Linked DNA regions of Homo sapiens. Changing the gene in region 1 together with any one later gene gives a genetic interaction. Each region holds a gene or a part of one and is shown in the gene's direction. Other genes may lie near its edges.

Evidence for each region.
Region 2: changes in DAZAP1 (region 1) and RABGEF1 together harm fitness more than expected from each alone (negative genetic interaction), as found in Homo sapiens cells (one large-scale study listed by BioGRID).
Region 3: changes in DAZAP1 (region 1) and RAB1A together harm fitness more than expected from each alone (negative genetic interaction), as found in Homo sapiens cells (one large-scale study listed by BioGRID).
Region 4: changes in DAZAP1 (region 1) and SAR1A together harm fitness less than expected from each alone (positive genetic interaction), as found in Homo sapiens cells (one large-scale study listed by BioGRID).

What each region holds. Positions count from the first base shown.
Region 1 is NC_000019.10:1,406,370-1,410,385, forward strand, and holds the start of DAZAP1 (DAZ-associated protein 1), read left to right. Parts: upstream 1-1,216; 5' UTR 1,217-1,404; coding exon 1,405-1,433; intron 1,434-1,515; exon of another isoform or gene 1,516-3,252; coding exon of another isoform or gene 3,253-3,710; intron 3,711-4,016. UniProt on the Homo sapiens protein: RNA-binding protein, which may be required during spermatogenesis.
Region 2 is NC_000007.14:66,771,733-66,775,232, forward strand, and holds part of RABGEF1 (rab5 GDP/GTP exchange factor), read left to right. Parts: intron 1-150; coding exon of another isoform or gene 151-167; coding exon 168-346; intron 347-1,958; coding exon of another isoform or gene 1,959-2,095; intron 2,096-3,494; coding exon 3,495-3,500. UniProt on the Homo sapiens protein: Rab effector protein acting as linker between gamma-adaptin, RAB4A or RAB5A. Involved in endocytic membrane fusion and membrane trafficking of recycling endosomes. Stimulates nucleotide exchange on RAB5A. Can act as a ubiquitin ligase.
Region 3 is NC_000002.12:65,089,231-65,092,106, reverse strand, and holds part of RAB1A (ras-related protein Rab-1A), read left to right. Parts: intron 1-1,028; coding exon 1,029-1,124; intron 1,125-2,876. UniProt on the Homo sapiens protein: The small GTPases Rab are key regulators of intracellular membrane trafficking, from the formation of transport vesicles to their fusion with membranes.
Region 4 is NC_000010.11:70,153,515-70,157,014, reverse strand, and holds part of SAR1A (small COPII coat GTPase SAR1A), read left to right. Parts: intron 1-3,045; coding exon 3,046-3,177; intron 3,178-3,500. UniProt on the Homo sapiens protein: Small GTPase that cycles between an active GTP-bound and an inactive GDP-bound state and mainly functions in vesicle-mediated endoplasmic reticulum (ER) to Golgi transport.

The sequences.
Region 1 (4,016 bases):
ACCACCACGCCCGGCTAATTTTCTTTTGTATTTTTAGTAGAGACGGGGTTTCACTATATATGTTGGCTAGGCTGGTCTCGATCTCCTGACCTAAATTGATCCTCGGCCTCCCAAAGTGTTGGGATTATAGGCGTGCGCCACCTCACCCGGCCTTGTTCCTTGTATTTATTTAATTCTGTGATGATGAATAAACCAAACGATCAGGCTGTCAATGTGCTGTGAGATTAAGGAGAAAAGCAGTAGGCAGCACGTACCCGGTTTTACAAAACCCTGCGGGTCACCTGTTTACTACCGTCAGCCTAGACCGGTTTTTCCACCTCCTTCTGCTGACATTGGAGGACGGGTATCATTCTTTTTGGGGGGTCGTCGTGTGCACTGCAGGGTGCTGAGCGGCATGTCTGGTCTGGACCCACTCGATGCCAGCAGCACCCCGCACTCAAGTTGTGACAACCAAAACCGTGTTTTCAGACATTGCCAAGTTATCCCCTAGGGGGCAAAGTCACCCAGAAGAAGAACCACTGATGTATGCAATTAACAGATGCAACTAAAACAGTATTTGGCTATTAATAGTAATAGCACTTGGGGGGGGGGTCAATAATATCTTTTCATAGTCATTGAATTTAGTTAATTGTTTTGATTTGATTCCAGTTCAGCCCCGAACTGGGTGACCTTGGCCAAGTGACTCAGCCTCTCGGACCCTCGGGATCCTCTTCTGTGAAATGCGGACAGGGGAAGGAGCCTCGCGCGGGACGCTCACGTGCCGTTCCCGCTCCGTCCGCCCGCCTGGGGTGCGGGCGGGTACACTCCCACTCCCCGCAGCGCCCCACGCGGCTCCACCGCTTCCGAGTGAAGAGTTAAAGAGGAAGCGGCAGCCGCGCCTGCGCCCACAGTGCCTAGCCCGGAGCGCCGGTCTCGCAAGCGCGCACGCGCACGCAAGCCCGCACGCGCGCGCACGCACGCACGTGGCTCGGCCCGCGCGCATCCTCCCCTTGCAGGGGCGGGGCCAGCGCAGGGACTCCATTTCCCAGCGTGCCCCGCGGCAACGCCAGGAGCCTCCGAGGAGAAAGGAAAACGCGCGACGGCCCCGACTGCGGCGGCGCGAAATCCGCCTCAGGGACGCACGCACAGACGGAGTACCCCTGGACCCGCCCCCGGAGACCCCGTGCGGGAGCGCGCCCGGGCGTGCGCAGGGGCGGCGGCGCGGCGGCGCGGGGACGCGCGGTGACCGTTGGCGCCGAGGGGAGGAGGCAGCCGCCGCCGCCGCCGCCGCCGCCGCCGCCGCCGCCGCCGCCGTTGCGCAGATCCGGGCCGCGGCTGTGGGGAGGGCGACGGAGCGGGTGACCTTCCGGAGGCGGGAGCGAGCGAGGAGGCCCGGGAGCGCCGAGCGTCGCCGCCGCCGCCGCCATGAACAACTCGGGCGCCGACGAGATCGGGTGAGGACGAGCGGCGCGGGCCTGCGTCTCCGCCCCGAGCCCGGCCCGCCGCTCCCCGCCGCCCGGCCTCAGACGCCGCCCCCCGGGGCCGCCCCGTCAAGGTCACGCCGGCCGGGGGCGGACTCGGGACCCGGACTCGCCGCGGCTTCGCGCCGGGGGCCCTGGACGGGTGCCCGGGGTCTGGGGGGGTCCTGGCGCCCCCGCCGCCGCTTCCCGGCTTCCCGTCCTGGGGGATCCTGAAGGAGAGCCTGAGGGGTCCGGGGGGCCCCGCCGCCGCCTCCAGACTTCCTGGTCGGGGGAACCCCGAACGGCAACCTGGGGGGGTGTCCTGGGGCGCCCGTGCCGCCGCTTCCCGACTGCGCGTCCTGAGGGACCCCGAATGGGAGCCAGAGGGGTTCAGGGGCCCCCGCCGCCGCTTCCTGGTTGTGGCGGCCCCGAACGGGAACTTGGGGGGGTCTGGAGCGTCCCCGTTGCCGCCTGTAGGGCTTCCTGGCCTGGGGGACCCCGAATGAGAACCTGAGGGAGTCTGCGGGGAGTCCAGGGCGCCGTCGCCGCCGCCTCCCGGCTTCCTGGCCAGGGGGACCCCAAACTGTGGCGTGGGGGGTGGTCCGGGGCGCCCCCAGCGCGCGCCCAAACTTGGCGGGCGGCGCACGTGGCGAGCCGAGGCGAGGGTTCCGGTTCTGCCACCGCCCAACCTATCCCACTCGGGGCTCCGGGCTCCCCGCTCCCATCCCACCCCCCCAAAGTGGTAAGGTCGGGAGGGGTTCGCAAACCCAGGGCCCAGGGGGCTCGGGTCAGCCGGGGCCTGCTGTGTTTACGTTGCCTCGGCGCCTCCCCGCCGGGGGTGGGCTTGAGCTGCGGAAGGGAGAGTCAGCGCTTCCGAGGCGGCGACGGGCCCGCGGATCTTTGCTGCGCCGAGGCGTCCCCTCCTATAGGAGCCTGACCTGCTCCGGACCCCGCGGGGCCGGGAAACCTCATTTCGCTGTGCCCCAGGGCTCGGCGCCATTCTTTGGTAGGAGCGGCTCCTGCCGCAGCGACGTCGTTTTAGAGTTGCATTCTTCCGGCAAAACAGTCTGGGTTGGGTTTCCTAGTGGTCTGGTGTAAATTTCTCGGTGCCCTTAGCTTTGAGCAGCGCCCTGTGTTCTCAGCGCTGGGCTTGGCTAGTGCGGGAGCGGTTGCTGCTAGAGGGTTGCCTTGGCAGGCGCCTCTCGCACCAGCTACAGGTCACACTTGTGGATGGGAAATGCCTTTTGTGGGCTCTCCCCCTCCCCAGACAAAACAAAAGAGCACCTTCCGTTGGAGAACCAGGATGAAAGCACTTAGCCCCTGCCTAGCCCGTGCTGTGAGTCCTCTCCAGGCACTTTGACTTGGCAGGGTCCGTGTGCCTGTGTGAGGGACATTGCAGGGATGGGCCTGAGCAGGGAGTCCACCGGCCATGGGGGATGGAGCCATCGACTTTGGGGTGAGGCAGGGAAAGGGCTCCCAGATGGGGTACCTGGATTAGGTCCATTCAAGCCGCGGGTGAACGTGGGCCCGCTCCACCCAAGCCGTGGCTGTGAGGAGGCTGGAGAGAGGTGAGGGCTCCTGTCCCCTCCCTGCATGGACACCCTTGGGAAGTGGGGCAGCTGGGGTCCCAGCCTGGGTCTGGAGGGGTCCCACCCACAGCACAAATAGGCTCGCAGGCCACCCGGACGCCACGGGCTGCGTGGAGGAGAACTGGAGTGCATGGACCCTGCTCTCCTCCCCGGCTGCCAGGAGTGTCCACTGCTTTCTAAGTCAGACTCCTTGGGCAAGAAGTGTTGCCACAGCCGCCCGTCGCATGGGAGACCGGCTTCCATTCTATGCGGAGTCCACGGTCTGCTCTGATCTTGCTGTGTGGAGTTGTTGTGTGCGTGAAATGCTTGTGACCCTGCGAAGCGCCCTCCTGGCAAGTCCCCTGCAGGTGCGGTGGGTGCCATGCAGGAGGGTGCTGAGCTTGGATGGAAGCAGGCCCTCTCTGCGGCAGATGGCGGCTCTCAGGACGCCATGGGTCTGCGGTGTCCCTTACCCACTGGGGGGGCTCGGCAGCCTGAGGAGCTCCCTCTTCCTGATGCAGAGCCCTCACTGCTCACTGCCATGGAGGAGGCAGGAGATCCCGCCGGACCCCGCTTGGAGGGCTGGGCCTGGAGCATGCATGGGTGCGGGGTCAACGCCTCAGGAGACTTGGAGCTTGGGAGCCCCCTGTTCTGGGACACTTGTGGCCGTCCAGCTGCTGCCCTGGGAATCCACACCTGGAAGGTGGGTTAGGGAGCCATCCTTGGGGGAAGCTCTGCTTTTGAGTCTGAGAAGTCGTCCCAAGTTTTGAGGGTCCCTGTGCTGGCTTAGAAGTCCATGTAAAGCTTGATGGGGGATGAAAGTCAGCTGAGGCCTGCCGGTGATAACGGATGCCTTACACACACCGACTTCCAGTCAGCTTGAGGGGGGCTTCATGCAGGAGGAAGCGCATACGTGTGGTGGGGTGTGGGGAGTCCCTCTCTGGATCCTGGTGGGTTTGGCACGCGGACCCTACATGGTGGATGTGATGGACAGTGTCCTCCTTTGGGA
Region 2 (3,500 bases), on another chromosome or scaffold:
CCTCCTCTTTCTCCCTCCCTCCTTCATTCCCTCCATCCCTCTCTTAACAGCTTGAAGATAATGGAATCACTCACTTTTTGTTCATAATTGGTAAGATTTTATTTAGTAGAATGATAATTCATTTTCAACAGCACTTTCTTGTTTGTTCAGTGGTTAGCAGGAAGAAGATGAGCCTTAAGTCTGAACGCCGAGGAATTCATGTGGATCAATCGGATCTCCTGTGCAAGAAAGGATGTGGTTACTACGGCAACCCTGCCTGGCAGGGTTTCTGCTCCAAGTGCTGGAGGGAAGAGTACCACAAAGCCAGGCAGAAGCAGATTCAGGAGGACTGGGAGCTGGCGGAGCGGTAAAAGGACTTAACTAGGGGCGGTTGAACAGTGACGTGACTGGATACATAGTTCTGTCACCGTCTAAATACATTTTTTCACTTCTGCTTTGAGCTATCAGCAAGTCAGTTTAATATTAAGGAAAAGGATGTTTTCCTCTCTTCTTCTCAGTCAGCTTTTAATGAACAGCTTTCAGTAGTTTCTTCATTTTGTGTTTGTCTTCTGATTATTTTCTTTGGGTTGTGTTAGTTTTAGTTCTCAAATGTAGACAATAAGCTCCTTGGAGTGGAAGAATGGAGATAGGCATATTTCCTGGTGAAGATTAAATGAGCTAATAAATTTGACGTACCCACTGCAGGGCTTGGAAATGGCACTCATCAAGCATTATTTCCCTCATTCTTTTAATATATATTTAGCATGGCATCTAGCTCAGTGATAAAACACAGTAGTAGAAATCTGTTGACTTGTATACATAGTCATTGCATTGTAGAAATTTAACTTATATTTAAAAATTAGGTTAGCATTTGGTATTATCCGGAAATATAATGATGTTAAAAATTAAACGATGGGCCGGGCGCAGTGGCTCACGCCTGTAATCCTAGCACTTTGGGAGGGTGAGGCAGGAGGATCATCTGAGGTCAGGAGTTCGAGACCAGCCTGACCAACATGGTGAAACCCCCTCTCTACTAAAAATATTAAAAAAGTTAGCCGGGCATGGTGGTACGCATTTGTTATCCCAGCTACTTGGGAGACTGAGGCAGGAGAATTGCTTGAACCCAGGTATCGGAGGTTGCAGTGAGCTGAGATCATGCCACTGCACTCCAGCTTGGGAGACAGAGTGAGACTCTGTCTCAAAAAAAAATAAATAAATAAATAAATAAATGATGGGATGGCTAGTGAGCATAGGAACTAATAAAATGCCATGAATAATGTTAATTCTTTGCCAGAGCATTCTAGAATTCTAAAACTGCTTCAACAGAAGAAAGTCAAATGGAATTCTGCCAACTCCTCTAGCTAGTTGTTTGTTTTTTTTTTTTCATCCAGTCAGCCAATATTTGTTGAGTGACTCCTTTGCTGTCATTTGTAGTGAACTCAGAGAATTAGAAATTACACATTGCTTTCAGTGACTGTGTTCAATCAAAGAGAGAAAATTTTAGCCGAGAACATGAATGATCTCCTCAGGGTTTCCACTGCATGCCTGATGCTGTCAGTAGCAGATCCTGTTTCAAAAACAGAGTAGAGGCCACTAGGCACAAACTCCCTCAGCTTCCTCCCCTCACCACATAAAAATGTCCTAGTACCTTTATATTAACTTCTTGTCTGTCCCAGAGAAAGAGGGGTCCCGATTCCACCCTCAGACTTAGCACCTCCACCTGTGATTTTTGTTTCTATTTCTTACTGCTTTTAATTGTGACCCTGCTAAATCTCTCGGAAAGCTTGTAAAAGCAGTGATTGCTGGACCTTACCCACAGAGTCTCTGATTTTAGTGGCTTGGGAGTAAGACTAGAGAATTTGCATTTCTGACAAGTTGCCTGGTGATGCTGCGCTGCTGTCTGGGGAATCATACTTGGAAAATCATTGTCTTTTAGATAGTGCTTGTGCTTTTTGTTTGTTTGTTTGTTTTTGAGACAGGGTCTTGCTCTGTTACCCTGGCTGGAGTGCAATGGTGCAATTTCAACTTACTGCAACCTCTGCTTCCTGGGCTCAAGTGATCCTCCTGCTTCAGCCTCCCAAGTAGCTAGGACTACAGAAGTATGCCACCATGCCCAGCTAAGTTTTGTATTTTATGTAGAGACAGGGTTTCACCATGTTGCCCAGGCTGGTCTCAAATTCCTGAGCTCAAGTGATCCGGCCGCCTTGGCCTCCCAGTGTGCTGGGATTACAGGCGTGAGCCACTGCACCTGGCCTGTGTTTGGGAATTAATACAGGTGGTTCACATGCAGCTAATCCAAAGCCAAATTTATTGCTTTTATTTATTATTCTCCGCATTCTGAACATTTTCCTCCTAACCCTTCTCCTGAGTCAATTAATGGCATCACTACTTACCAAGTTAGCTAAAAAACCTTGGTTTCATTCTTGATTTCTCTTTTATCTCCCATGCTAGCTACAACTTGACCAAGTTCTATTTCTTCCAACTCAGAAAAGTCTTTTGAATTTTACCTTTTGTACTCCTATTTTCCAGGTGCTTATTTTCTTTTACTTAAACCTTTATAATATACTCTTACTTCTTGTTCCTGTCTCTAGTTTCTCTACCCTTCAAGTTGTTCACACAGCTACCTGCATGATCTTTCTAAAGTACAGATCTGACAGCGATAACTCCTTGGATTTACAGTCTTTCTTGCTTCCCTACCACATGATGAAATCCAGAATAGTGGGCTCAGCAATCAAGATTCCCTACCCTCTGGAGCCTTCCTGTATATCCAGCATCACAGTTCATCACACGCCCAGTGCTCTGGCTACATTCAGCTTGTTGTGAAGCAAACCACAGGCTTGCACATTTGTAGTTCCTTCTTTCTGGAATGTCCTTTCACTTAGAATCCTATTCAGCCTTATTAGTCAGGTGTGGTGGTGTGCGCCTGTAGTCCCAATAACTTGGGAGGCTGAGGGATGAGAATTGCTTGAACTCGGGAGGCAGAGGTTGTAGTGAGCTGATACCATGCTATTACACTCCAGCCTGGGCGATGGAGTGACACTCTGTCTCAAAAACAACCAAAAAAAGGATCCTATTTATCCTTTAAGACCTCACCCAAACATCACCGTTGTAAAGCCTCGTCAGACTCCCCCAGCAGATTGAGTTGTTCTTTCCTGTGTTCTCACAGCACTCAACTTTTACTCTCTGATGTAGCAGCTGTCCCATTCTGTAGCAGTTGTTTACTTACCTTTTTGTCTGTTCCAGCCTTGAGCTTGTTAGGGAAAAGGATTAGACTTGATTTCTTTCATGTAACCCTAGAGCAGTAGCTGAATGAGTATGAGAAGACCCCATTTGAAATCTGTAGTGCATGAAGAGCCGTCCATCCTGTAGCAATGTGAGACCTCAGACTGATTTGGCATATTTAGTCTCTAGGTCTAAAATCTTTAGATCCTCCTGAATTAATGGAGTAATAACCTTCACATACAGAGAAACCTTGGAGAATATCTAGGTCATTCTAATCCTCTCTTGAATTGCAGACTCCA
Region 3 (2,876 bases), on another chromosome or scaffold:
GAGACAGGGTTTCACCATGTTGGTCAGGCTGGTCTCGAACTCCTGAGCTCGTAATCCGCCCGTCTCGGCCCCACAAAGTGCTGGGATTACAGGCGTGAGCCACCGTACCCAGTCCCAACAGTTTTTTAAAACCCAGAACTATAATGCAATAATGTTAGCATTTGTTTTGGGAGTTTGAGCCTAAATGGTTGAAGTGCAGTAAATTGTTCTTAAAATACGTTTTATGAAAGTATTTGGAGTCATCTTCCTTACATTTTTTTCTCTAGGATGAAGACAACACCTAGCCAGGCATGGTGGCTCATGCCAGTAATGCCAGCACTTTGGGAGAATGAGTTAGGATAATTGCTTGAGTCCAGGAATTTGAGACCAGCCTGGGCAATGTAGCGAGACTCTGTCTCTACAAAAAAGAAAAAATTAGCCGGGTGTGGTGGCATGTGCCTGTAGTCCCAGCTACTCAGGAGGCTCAGGTGGAAGGATTGCTTGAGGTGGGAGGTTGAGGCTGCAGCGAGCCATGATCATGCCACTGTACTCAGCCTGGATGACAGAATGAGACGCTGCTTGAGAGGGGAAAAAAAAGACACCTGCTTGGGATGATTAAAGTTCTGTCTTGACTGGTAGTTATTTGAATTAGGTCCCTCCAGTGCTTTTAATCATGGTAGAATGTGCTAGCAAGTGAGTTTGTCTTACATGGAAGAGTTCTGTGTTCAAGGGCTTTCGGCCAGTGGCATTCCTAAACACAGTGTTAAAGGCGGTAGGGAATGTGAAAAGTATGACATAGTTCCTGCTCTCAACAGCTTGTAATTTTAGTATTATTATCGTAAGCTCAATTGTAGGTACTACTTCTTTTCTGGACTTTCAGGTGCTTATTACCGTGCAATTTAGTGGTATGAGTTGAGGACTAATGTTTCTATATCACATCCTGATAATCTCCACAGTTATGAAAACTAAACTATTTCCCCTCCCTCCTACACTTTTCCCCAACTTTATTTTAATGGAATTGTTTGGATTTCTTGATTGTTTTGTAATAGTGGGACACAGCAGGCCAGGAAAGATTTCGAACAATCACCTCCAGTTATTACAGAGGAGCCCATGGCATCATAGTTGTGTATGATGTGACAGATCAGGTAAGTTCCAAGAGGAGATTGTGTTACAGTGACCAAGTAGGAAGCCATTATTTGATTAATGTCAGATTCATTTACTACTTCATATATAAGCCATCAGTATTAATTTTATGGCAGAAAACTTTGTCCACTCTCAAATATAAATGTGAATCACTTAAAAGACATTTGTTTTCCTGTAATAAATAAAAGATTAGTAATTAGTTTTACGTTTGCTTTCAAGGGATTCTGGTTGTATTTATTGTCAACTAAATAACTTTGATCAAATAGCCAAGACTCTAACATATAGGCAAGAGTTTGTAGGGAATCGTGAGTTGCTTGGCTTATACTGTGTTCTTGGTGTTAAGTATTAACAGGAATATGGCCTGGTAATTAGAACTTGTCCATCAGAATTGCCAAAAGTGGGATTCGGGGGTCTCTGCCTATGGAGGATGTGGTTCAGAAATAAAGAATTTGAATAGGATAAGCTGTAGGAGGATCTTAGTATGAGAATGAGTATCTGAAGATTAGCTGTGAGAGAGGGCAGAGCGATGGAGGGAACAATGTGGGACAGTGTGAAGCATGTGATCCAGGGGCCATAACTTTTTTTGTTACTATTTTTTTAAATCAGAAACTTAGATTTCAGTGTCCTTTCTATCAAAGAAAAGGACAAAAGATAAACGTTCAAAATTGGAATTTATTTTTCTTTTGGCAAATGTTAAATCTCACCTCTAATGAGAAATCATAGCTAATTAGGAGATAACTTACATGTAAGCATTTAGATTCAGTGCCATTAGAAGTGCTGGGTGGGTGATATCTGCAGGAGAAAAAAATGATGCTAGTTTAAAAAATCTCTACTATTACCGTGAAATATTTTTAAATGAAAACTTTCGTCCTCTAAATATGACTGTGGAAAAGAAAATGAGTATATTTAATAACATCTTTTGACATCTCTAGTAGTAACAGTAGGTCATCTTATTCATAAACCAAAATTTTACCAAATTTCAGGCCAGGCGCAGTGGCTCACGCCTGTAATCCCAGAACTTTGGGAGGCCGAGGCGGGCGGATCACCTGAGGTCAGGAGTTAGAGACTAGCCTCGCCAACATGGCAAAATCCCATCTCTAGTAAAAATACAAAAATTAGCCAGGCGTGGGGGCCCGTGCCTGTAATCCTAGCCACTTGGGAGGCTGAGACAGGAGAATCGCTTGAACCCAGCGGGCAGAGGTTGCAGTGAGCCGAGATCGCGCCATTGCACTCCAGCCTGGATGACAGAACAAGACTTTGTCTCAAAAAAAAAAAAAAAAAATTAATCAAATTTCAAAACCAGGTTTTGTAGTACATTTAAATTGCATATTCCAAAGCAGTTGGGTTTGCCTGCGTTGCAGTTTAATATTAAGCTATACTTCCCTTTCAAATAAGGTATTTTCATCGTTAAGCCTGTAAATTCTAGTTTGTCATTGTTTAGATATTTATAGTCATTTTAATATATCTGTTTACGGCCAGCTGCAATGGCTAACACCTGTAAACTCAGCACTTTTTGAGGCCAAGGTGGGCCGATTGAGCTCAGGAGTTCGAGACCAGCCTGGGCAACATAGTGAAACTCCATCTATACAAAAAATCCAAAAAAAAAAAGACAGGTGTGGTGGCATGTGCCTGTAGTCCCAGCTATCCCGGAGGCGGAGGCGGGAGGATGGCTTGAGCTTGGGAGGTCGAGGGTGCAGTGAGCTGTGATTGTGCCACTGCACTCCGGCCTAGGTGACAGAGCAAGACCCTGTCTC
Region 4 (3,500 bases), on another chromosome or scaffold:
CTCCCACTGAATGACTTGCCAGACCTTCATGGTCTGTTCTCAGTCTTCAGTTTTGGTTGCATACATCCTTTGATACTATTAAGGACTCACTTCAAGTTTTCTCCTTTGTCAACATTGCATTTTCTCATGGCTTGATGGTTTCTATACTATTGGCTTTGTTATCCCTACTCCTTTACCCTATATCTCTTCTTTCTCTTTGATTTATAACTCCTTGCATTCTTGTTTCTGGCAACTTGAACCTGTCTTGAATTTATTTCTAAGTATGTTTCTCACATCTATAGCTCCAGCCTCATGTAGAATTGCCTGCCACGCAGTCTTTACCTTGCTTTTTTTTTTTTTTTTTAAACAGAATCTTCCTCTGTGGCCCAGGCTGGAGTCCAATGGTGCAATCACGGCTCACTGTAACCTCCAGACTTCTGGGCTCAAGCGATATTCCTGCCTCAGCCTCCCAAGTAGCTAGGACTACAGGCATACACCACCACACCCAGCTAATTTTTTTTAAAAAAGTGTTTTTGTAGAGACAGGGTCTCATTATGTTGCCCAGGCTTGTCTCAGTCTCCTGGCTTCAGGTGATCCTCTGCCTCGGCCTCATGAGGTGCTGGGATTACAGGCATGAGCCACCATGCATGGTCTCCATTCTCTTTGTTTAAACTCCTCTTTTCACTCTTGATTTTGGAGCTACCTCTCTGGCTGATACTTCTGTCTCTTTGAGAAGCACTAGTTCTTCTGGTTAGTCCTTAAATGTTGGTGTTCTCCAGAGTACTTTCTCCTAGGCTGGTCCCATCTACTCCCTTCATTTGGCACCTACATGTCAGTGACTCTCAAATGCATTTCTCTCCTCTAGACCTCTCCTGAGCTCTAATCTCATACCTAATCCTGCCTACTCTCGACAACTCCTACTACTGATTCTGTTTTCCTAGAATGGAACTATTTGTCTTTCCCACCCACCACCTACCTGGACATGCAGTCCACAAATCTGTGAATTAATATAAATCCTACCATGACCCTGATATGCACCATAATGCTAGAAGGAACTTTCTCAGACTTAATTGCCCTACTTAATATCCTTTGATAGTTCTCTATCATTTTCAGGATAAAATCTATAAATCTTTTGCATAGCACATAGGATCATTCATGATCCTCCCTCTGTTTCTTTTTACTGCCTACCTTGAACTATATTCCAAACAAACAACTTAGCCATCCTTGAATATGCACAAGTAGCTACTGCCTGGCTTTTTCACCTGTACCTCTCCTCAACCCCTCGCTTTGTCGGCAAATTTTAAAATGTTCTATAAGAGACCTCAGAGTTCAGATATGACTGCTTCTGGTAAGCCTCCCTTGACCTCTGAGACTGTGTTAGACTCCCACCTTACCAATGTCTGTTGTCTTTATTGATTTTTTTATAGTTCTCTCTCATCAGACTATGAACTAACATGATAGGGACTGTGTCTTATTTCTTTGCAAAACCCCTGCACCTAGCAAAGCATTAGACACATTAGGTACTTTGTTGTTGCTTAATGAATGAAGGACATTCTTATTCTAATTTTGTGTAACATTTCCTGGAATTCCAGATGGTCAAAGTACATTCCTCTTTATCTCTTTAACTCTGCTTTCCCCGCTAGCTTTCCTATTGGTGACAACTAGATTCCCAGGCTTGAAATCAGTGGCAGTTTTGACTCATTTGTCTTTTTTAAATTTTTTTTTTAATCATTTAGACATTGGTCTCTTCAATTCTTTCTTCAAAATGCCTCCTGCAGTATTCATTGAATGCTCTACCTTAAGCTAGATCATGATCTCTTACATGAACACCACAGATAGATACTATTTGTGAATTCATTATACTGAAAAATAAGATTTTATTCACTAACTTCTGGATTTGTGGTCTTTTAGGATATATTGCAGCTCACTTCTCACACTGGCCCCTAATGTGAGTCATCTCTTCTCATCCATTTACTTTGTCGCTGCATGTCTATCTAAATGCTTGAATCCAGCCATGCAGTACTGTGTGGCTTCCTGAATTATTGTCCTAATGCAAAGCCGTTGTTTATGTTCTTACTTCTCCTTTACACCTATCCAAACCCTGCCCTTCCTTTAGAGCCCTGTTTAGGTTCCAGATCTTTTCTAAGACTTTGCTCAAGCCCAAAATTGCCATTTTATTTCCCTGAACTTGTCTTAATGTTAATATTCAGTTCCCATTCATTGTGACACTTATCCACTATATTGTGTTCTTACTTGGCTTTGTTAACATAAATGTGGCTGGGCGTGGTGGCTCATGCCTGTAATTCCAGCATTTTGGGATGCTGAGGTTGGCAGATTACTTGAGGGGCAGGAGTTTGAGACCAGCCTGGCCAACATGGTAAAACTCCATCTCTACTAAAAAAATACAAAAATTAGCCAGGCGTGGTAGCACATGCCTGTAGTCCCAGCTACTCAGGAGGCTGAGGTGGGAGAATCGCTTGAACCTGGAAGTCACAGGTTGCAGTGAGCTGAGATTAAGAAAAAAGAAAAAAAACATAATGTGAACATAGAGTGAGGATTTTTTTGAGGACAGGAATGTGCTTCCTTTTGTATCCTCAGTGCCTGAGATAGTTACCCTTCCTACTTTATTCCTCTCAATGCCTGAGAGAGTTCTTCGCACACAATGGGACTTGGTGAATACTTGGGGAATTCCTGTAGTCATCTTTGAGGCTCTGTAGCCAGAGCATTCATTCTTATAGGACTTTGCTGAGGGACATCCTGAGGATAGTTTGTGGCTGAGCAGATTAGCTCAAAAGTTAATATTGGGGCAGTTCTGCTGCCTTGTAAATAAATAGAATAAAGTTGCAACTGTTTCGAGGCACTTAGGAGATTTTTACTTAATGTCATGGGTGTTATGTAATGTCAAGGTGAATCTTTAATCACTCAGGTATAAAGTTGATCAGATTTTCACTTTACATTAATGCCTTAAAAGATTAGTGGAAGTCAGAATTTTCATTATCTGGTGGGCTTTTGTAGATTCCTCACTTAATTCTTTTTTTTCTTTTTTTCTTTTTTTTCAATCTTTAGGCTTTAATGACTGATGAAACAATATCCAATGTGCCAATCCTTATCTTGGGTAACAAAATTGACAGAACAGATGCAATCAGTGAAGAAAAACTCCGTGAGATATTTGGGCTTTATGGACAGACCACAGGAAAGGTAAGAGAAAAATATTTGGGTTACATATAAAGGACATTAACAGTTTTTAAAACATGATGTTTCGCTATCTAGATTACCCTTTTCTTTTAAAGGCTTAAACAGGCTTAGGATTAGTTTTACTGTGAGTATTTTGTAAGCTCACTAGAGGCAGGAGTGTGTTCTTTTTAACGTTTTAAATGGGATTCATTCATCAGGTATTTGAGGAAGAAGGAAATGGTAGAAAAGGCAGATTTACTCTTCTAAGAGTTTATGATTATCTTTCAAATTTGATTCTGAGAAATTGCTTTTGAAATAGCCCTTTTTAGCCAGAAAATAATTTTTTT